Linked DNA regions of Homo sapiens. The protein of the gene in region 1 interacts with the protein of each later gene in a pairwise test. Each region holds a gene or a part of one and is shown on either strand. Other genes may lie near its edges.

Region 1 (3,819 bases):
ATGAAAGAGAGGACCCAGGCAGCTGCAATCATCATACCTGCCATTTTTGTGGTCCGCTTGACTGGGTAGGTCAGAGGTTTTGTGACACAGAAGTACCTGTCAAAGCTGATGATGAGCAGATTCATAACTGAGGCATTGCTGACCACATAGTCCAGGGCTAGCCAAAGGTCACACACCACAGGTCCCAAAGGCCAGTAACCAATCACAGTGTAGAGGGTGTACAAGTTCATGGAGAAAACACCTATGATAAGGTCAGCACAGGCCAAGCTGAATAAAAAGTAATTGTTGACGGTCTGGAGGTGGCGGTTGACTTTAATGGAAACCATGACTAGGATGTTCCCGATAATGGTCACCAAACTGAGGGATCCAGCCACCAGGACAATAAACACCACTTCAAATGTCTTATAAGGACTTGTAAGAGCCAGGCTATTGTTAGAGGAGTTTGTTGAGTTATTCATTTTGCGTTCTCTAATCAGTAGCCAAGTAGCAAATAAACATTTAAACCTGCAAGGAAATAGAATAAAATTAACAAACATAATATAAACATTGGTTTAAAATACATAATGTTGTTTCTCCTTTTAAACCACATTATTTTCTCCCAAATCTCCCTTCCCCTGCATGATTACTGTGTCTACCTGCCTCAATTCCCCATGTAAAAAGCAAGACCTTCAAATGGAGGATTCAAAAGGACCTTTCAGGCTGGCAATGAACTTGAAGTCCAGTAATGTTTTAAATATGTCCTTATCCAGATATGAGTATCTATCTACCTACCTATCTACCTATATATCTCATCAATCCATGAAACTTAGCATAATACTGATAAATTGAATTAAATAAACCAAAATTACAAACAACACTTTCTAAAACATCAAGGGATTCCTGGAATAGACATAAAAATTAGTAAATTAGTGAGAGGACACAATTATAGAAGAAAGCATAGAATGTATAATATTGAATGTGTGACTTTTATAGTTAACAGTGCCTTTCCTCATGGAAGCTCTAAGCCTTTTTCACAATAACACTGAGGATGGTGAAAATAAAGATAATATAATAATACTTAATAGCCAGTATACTCTCCCTAGATGAGAATTATTTTCCTCTTGCCTCTATTTTATTTCATACTTGTAATCAGTATTACATAATCAGCATTTCCAATATTCCATATCTTACACAAGAATATTTGCTTATTAAATGCATATTGAACTGAAAAAGCCAAAATTATGCATAAGACTTTCCAAAGCATAAAGAGATTTCTGGAATAGACATACAAATTAATACATCAATAAGAAGACAAAATTATGGGAGAAAATACCACTTTTCTGAATGTTTTGTTTTTCAAACCACTATCAAATCTATTATCTTACTATTCTTTCTGCCAAACTTTTTGTTTTGTAGAAGGAACTAAGGCTCAGAAAGATGAAATCCCAGTTTGTTCAGTCATTCATTCTTTCACTTTGTGCTCACATATCTATTGAGCAGCTTCTCTTAATTAGGTGTTCTGGACGTTCAATGATGATTAAAACAAGGTCTCTGCCTGGTGGCAGACATGGGTTGATGAAGAAGCAATTATTAAACCTGAATGCACTTCTTGTTTCCCTATCCTGTTGTGTGTAAGTAAACACATAATCATCATTTTTGAGATAATATCATTGAAGTCTGATGACAATTGAGTGATCTTTCATAATGGAAAATGTATATTGGGGATTTAGAAAAGAAAGTTAAGAATTCATCAAAGAGATATGACACATTTCTGGAGAAACAGCATCTGAAGCAGAAACTAGCCCAAGTTCCACCTCTTTTTGAAAAAATTGCTGTGAGCTGTCAGAAAATAAGCATTGCTGAGAAATTAAAATTTGGGAATATTGATTAGTTTGGATGCTATTAATTACAAAGAAATGGGCAGTGGTTTGCCCTTGAAATCCATGTAGAAAATAATTTGGTAAGCAACTTCATAACACAAATAACATTTAAAAAAATAATTTTTTCTGCTTTGGAAAGTCAATTGTTTTCCAGTATTTTATTTGACAAAACCCAAATAATGGGATTTGGCCTTAATATAATAAGACCCAAAATTCAGAAGCCAGAAAGGAAAATATATGTAACTGTTGCATATTCCTTTAAAATTTTTGCATAGAGCAAAAAAGTCAAAATAACAATTGAGAAACAATATTTGTAAATTGCACGATAGAAAATTATCCAATGTCTTTAATATAATAGAGTTTTGGCAAAAAAGGAAAGATGAAAGATGAATAATCTAAAACATTGATGTAGTAGTTCAATCAAAGAAAAATTAGACATTAATGACTTTTAAACATATGAAATGATACTCAACCCCACAGTTTAAAGATGCAAATCCAGACAGTGAAAAACAATTTTCCATCCGTAGTATTAATGGTAGTGTTGAATACTTTTGGTGGGACTAGCGGGATAATCACCACGAAGGATAATGTATCTATATCTATAGAACTTTAAATCTGTATCTATAAAAATGTATTAAGAAACACTTGTCTCAGGAATGCCACATTTAGGAATGTGTCTTTCAGATAGAGTCATAAAAATGTACAAAGAGGTCTACTCAAGTATGTTCACTCAGAAATGTTGTTATAGCAAAAAAATCCCGAGATATATTAAAACTATTCATTGACAAGGGATTGGTTAAATATATTATGGAATACTCTTACAATGGAATATTATGCGGCTAGTAAAACAGGTAGATATTTGTGTCCTGGCATTGCTGTGGAAAGTTATATAGTTAGAAGATGACATAATCATAGTGAGACATAGATTATTACAGAATATAATTTTATTTAAGCAAAAAGGTGATTATATGTAATATTACATATGTATGCCTGCAGCTCATTGGGAAATATTGAAGAGTTTAATCAGGGAAATGATGTTAATGGAATGCAACTTAGATCAGTTGAATTATTTTAATCGGATTTCCCTTTGACAATCCTTTTTTGCAATTAATCATACAATTGTATATTCATGGTAATTTATTTGAACAAAAACATTTTATTATCCCAGTTCTTATTCCAACAATTTCTTAATAGCTCAGCTAACTGTAAGATCAGAATTGTGACTTGCTTATAAGCAGCATTTTCTCTGTTTATTAGATAAATTCATGGACAGTTTGGAGTTGAGCTATATGTGTATCTGTTTCATGAAATGTTAATATTAATTCACTTAGTTTGAAAAATACAAAAAATGAATGTATTGACTCTGCATTTTAATTATTCATAATTTTGATAAAGCATAGGACTTATATTCTAGTTTTTAAAAGATTTTTGATAATTTCCTCTGGAGAATAATGAATAACACTGATGTTGAAAAGTAGGGATTCAAAATCAACTAGTTTGATGAGGATCTAAATTGCTAAGGTCCAAAATCCCCAAAATTACAATCCTGAAAGATTAAAATTCTGAATGTTGAAATCCTGAAAGCTGAATTCTGGAAAAGGGGTTGGCATTTCACTTGCATGCAGGATGGTCTCATCACATTGGCCTGCATCATGTTAGGTGGAACCATCACCTTGTTACTGCTTTTATTTGGAAATAACATATAGTTTGAGGAGATGTATATGAACACTAGGCTGACAAGTGGTGGACTTGTGAACTTAATTTTAGGTGTCAACTTGGCAGAATTAAGGAATACCTAGAAACCTGATAAAATATTAATTCGGATGTGTCTGTGAGGGTGTTTCCAGAGGCAATTCGTGTTTGAGTGTGAATGGACTAGATGGGGAATTTTGCCCTCAGTGTTGGAGTGCATCATCCAATTGGCCAGAGCCCAGTGAGAACAATTTCAGAAGGTGACTTG
Region 2 (3,819 bases), on another chromosome or scaffold:
TGCGTGTTCATGCATGTGCACGTGTGTGCATGTGTACACATGTGAATCTGTGGGTATGTATCTGAGTGTGTGTGCACATGTGAATGTGTGTGGCTCTGAGGGGTACTGCACAGATGTGAGGAAGCAGGGCCACTTCCCCAGGAACCCTGACTGCCCCCTCTTCCTGCCCCGGGTGGGGAGGCCTCAGCTGCATAAAGAGGCCGGGAGCCTCACCAGCGACTGCTGCTGGTCCCACACCTGCCGCTGCTGCCTCCCAGGCCAGGTACCGGGAGGGGGCCAGAGGCGGAGGGAGCTAAGGGGTCTCCTGCCTCAGCGACCCAGGAGCAGGTACTGGCCCTGGGGCAACCGCCAGCAGAGGGTGGGCAGGGGAGCTGCAGGAGCTCTCCTTCTTTGGAGCACAGGCCCTGCTGCACAGCCCTTTCCTGGGCACTTGCCCACCTTGGGCTTGGCTGGTCTGCGGCATAGCTGTCTCTGAGGGTCGCAGGTGCTGAGTGTGGCCTCACATCACTGGGTCTATAACCTCGCTGGACACCGTCCCTCCTGGACGGACGACTGGCTTCATCCTGACCCCAGCTAGAGATGGTCTGGGTTGAGACCATGGAGGACCAGGAACCTAGACTGGGCGGGCGGAGCCCTGGGACCCTGGGCACCTGAGAAGGGCAGCGGGACCAGCCGGGGGCTGGAGGGAGGATGGAGGATTTTGTGGAGGTGGAGGGACCCCGACGCCCCTGTCCAGGGTGTGGAGGGACCCCGACGCCCCTGTCCAGGGTGTGGAGGGAGGCAGAGCAGGGCCTCTGGGGGCCGAGGGGCTATGGGGATTGTGGACTGGTGGCACTTTGGGGTCTGGGAGCTGATGGTGGTGCAGGCACGGGGGGCTGTGAAGGACTGAGGGCTGATGGGGCTGCAGGGGCTTGGGGGCTAGGGAGCTGGAGGGGCCAGGAGGGATTGAGTGGCTAGGCAGGCTGGGGAGACCCTTTGGATGCTGAAACTCTGTGGGACCCTCCCCAACAACCTGGATGCGGCTGGGGCTGGGTTGGTGGCCATGGGTGCAGTGGACACTGAGACCACCAGTCCCCACACACTTGAGTGGTGCTTGCCTCAGTGTCCCCATCTGCCTCATGAAGGCAACTCACCCAGCTGGGGCCCTGCATCTGCACGAGCAGGGGCCGGATCAGGTGGGGGCTTCCACTTCCGTTTAAGGCGGTAAGCTCCACGTCATTGACTGTGTAAGCAGAGAGGGGCCAGCTGCGAGGCAAGCCTGGAGCCCCGGCTCTGAGCGCCGCGGGCTCCTAAGTGCAGGCCCCTGGCTGACCCCTACCCCGCCCCACAGGACCCGCCCGCCCGCCCCTATGACCAACATGAGCTGGAGCTTCCTGACGCGGCTGCTGGAGGAGATCCACAACCACTCCACCTTCGTGGGCAAGGTGTGGCTCACGGTGCTGGTGGTCTTCCGCATCGTGCTGACGGCTGTGGGCGGCGAGGCCATCTACTCGGACGAGCAGGCCAAGTTCACTTGCAACACGCGGCAGCCAGGCTGCGACAACGTCTGCTATGACGCCTTCGCGCCCCTGTCGCACGTGCGCTTCTGGGTCTTCCAGATTGTGGTCATCTCCACGCCCTCGGTCATGTACCTGGGCTACGCCGTGCACCGCCTGGCCCGTGCGTCTGAGCAGGAGCGGCGCCGCGCCCTCCGCCGCCGCCCGGGGCCACGCCGCGCGCCCCGAGCGCACCTGCCGCCCCCGCACGCCGGCTGGCCTGAGCCCGCCGACCTGGGCGAGGAGGAGCCCATGCTGGGCCTGGGCGAGGAGGAGGAGGAGGAGGAGACGGGGGCAGCCGAGGGCGCCGGCGAGGAAGCGGAGGAGGCAGGCGCGGAGGAGGCGTGCACTAAGGCGGTCGGCGCTGACGGCAAGGCGGCAGGGACCCCGGGCCCGACCGGGCAACACGATGGGCGGAGGCGCATCCAGCGGGAGGGCCTGATGCGCGTGTACGTGGCCCAGCTGGTGGCCAGGGCAGCTTTCGAGGTGGCCTTCCTGGTGGGCCAGTACCTGCTGTACGGCTTCGAGGTGCGACCGTTCTTTCCCTGCAGCCGCCAGCCCTGCCCGCACGTGGTGGACTGCTTCGTGTCGCGCCCTACTGAAAAGACGGTCTTCCTGCTGGTTATGTACGTGGTCAGCTGCCTGTGCCTGCTGCTCAACCTCTGTGAGATGGCCCACCTGGGCTTGGGCAGCGCGCAGGACGCGGTGCGCGGCCGCCGCGGCCCCCCGGCCTCCGCCCCCGCCCCCGCGCCGCGGCCCCCGCCCTGCGCCTTCCCTGCGGCGGCCGCTGGCTTGGCCTGCCCGCCCGACTACAGCCTGGTGGTGCGGGCGGCCGAGCGCGCTCGGGCGCATGACCAGAACCTGGCAAACCTGGCCCTGCAGGCGCTGCGCGACGGGGCAGCGGCTGGGGACCGCGACCGGGACAGTTCGCCGTGCGTCGGCCTCCCTGCGGCCTCCCGGGGGCCCCCCAGAGCAGGCGCCCCCGCGTCCCGGACGGGCAGTGCTACCTCTGCGGGCACTGTCGGGGAGCAGGGCCGGCCCGGCACCCACGAGCGGCCAGGAGCCAAGCCCAGGGCTGGCTCCGAGAAGGGCAGTGCCAGCAGCAGGGACGGGAAGACCACCGTGTGGATCTGAGGGCGCTGGCTTGCGAGCTGGGCCAGGGAGGAGGAGGGTTGGGGGGCTCCGGTGGAAACCTGCGACCCCTTCTCCTCAGCCTTCTCCTTAGCCGGTGGCCTCAGGCAGACTCTGCCCAGAGGGGCAGCCAGGCTGCTCAGGGAAGGGGCTGAAAGCGGCAGAGGAGTGCCCTGGCTTGGTCACCACTGGGGCCAAGGTGGGGTGGAGAGAGGCCTAGGAGCCAGAAAGGGCCCTCTGCTGTGGTCTGAACCCCAGGGGGAGTGGGGCATTGACTCCACCCCTGTCCTGAGCTGGAATAGGTCCTCTGGGATGCCAGCTCTCCCCTTTGTGCTTCCCTGCAGCAACCCATGGAGGGCCCAGGGTGCCTGGTATGGGCATCAGTTGGTGGGGGTGCGGGGGTGCGTGTCCCCATTCCCTGCAACAGCAAATGGGGCTCCTTCTTCAGCCCTCCCCTTCCCAGCCCCAAACTGAGACAGACTGGGAGCTGGGAGCCTGGGGTGGACAGGACCATACCCTCTTTGAGCTTCTGCGATGCCGGCCTTCCGTTCCTCTGGGAGGCTTGAAGTTCTGCAAAGATGTTGATATGCCTTGCAGCTTGGACCCAATGGGTGGTGGTCAGGGCCTGGGGGCTTGGCCATGCTGGGGGAATGGGGCTCTGGGTTCCTGCCTGTGGCCTGTCTGTCCTCCTCCCTAATTCAGACCCAGCCTCAAGAGGAAAGGGAGTAAAATAAAACTAACTTGTTTATAACCTTGTGTGTGCATGTGTATGCATGTGCACGTGTGGCTATGTGTGTGACTGCATGCACATGTATGTGCATTGTGTGCATGTCTGGGTGTATGCTTATATGTGTATGCATGGGTGTGTGTGCATGGCTACCACATGGGGAGACATGGCTTAGCTCCAGGCTGGCTGGGAGAGGAGACCCCTCCCCAGGGACTGGCAGGGGAGTATGGTCACAGGCGAGCCCCTGTAGCTTGTCAGACAACACTCGGGGCCTGCTCGGTGCCAGGCAGCGTGCCGGGGGCAGGGGTGGGTGGGGCAGGGTGGAGTGCACTGATGGTGAGAAAGAAAGAAAACACTCAGAGCCTCAGGTTGGGCCGCAGCTCAGTGGATGGAGGGCGGCTGTCTCAGGCCCCGTCATGACCAGGA

What was found.
Region 2: the proteins of CHRM2 (region 1) and GJC2 interact in a two-hybrid assay, tested with the Homo sapiens proteins (one large-scale study listed by BioGRID and IntAct).

Annotation. Positions count from the first base shown.
Region 1 is NC_000007.14:137,011,505-137,015,323, reverse strand, and holds part of CHRM2 (muscarinic acetylcholine receptor M2), read right to left. Parts: intron 505-3,819; 5' UTR 459-504; coding exon 1-458. UniProt on the Homo sapiens protein: The muscarinic acetylcholine receptor mediates various cellular responses, including inhibition of adenylate cyclase, breakdown of phosphoinositides and modulation of potassium channels through the action of G proteins.
Region 2 is NC_000001.11:228,156,410-228,160,228, forward strand, and holds the end of GJC2 (gap junction gamma-2 protein), read left to right. Parts: intron 1-1,330; 5' UTR 1,331-1,349; coding exon 1,350-2,669; 3' UTR 2,670-3,417; downstream 3,418-3,819. UniProt on the Homo sapiens protein: One gap junction consists of a cluster of closely packed pairs of transmembrane channels, the connexons, through which materials of low MW diffuse from one cell to a neighboring cell. May play a role in myelination in central and peripheral nervous systems.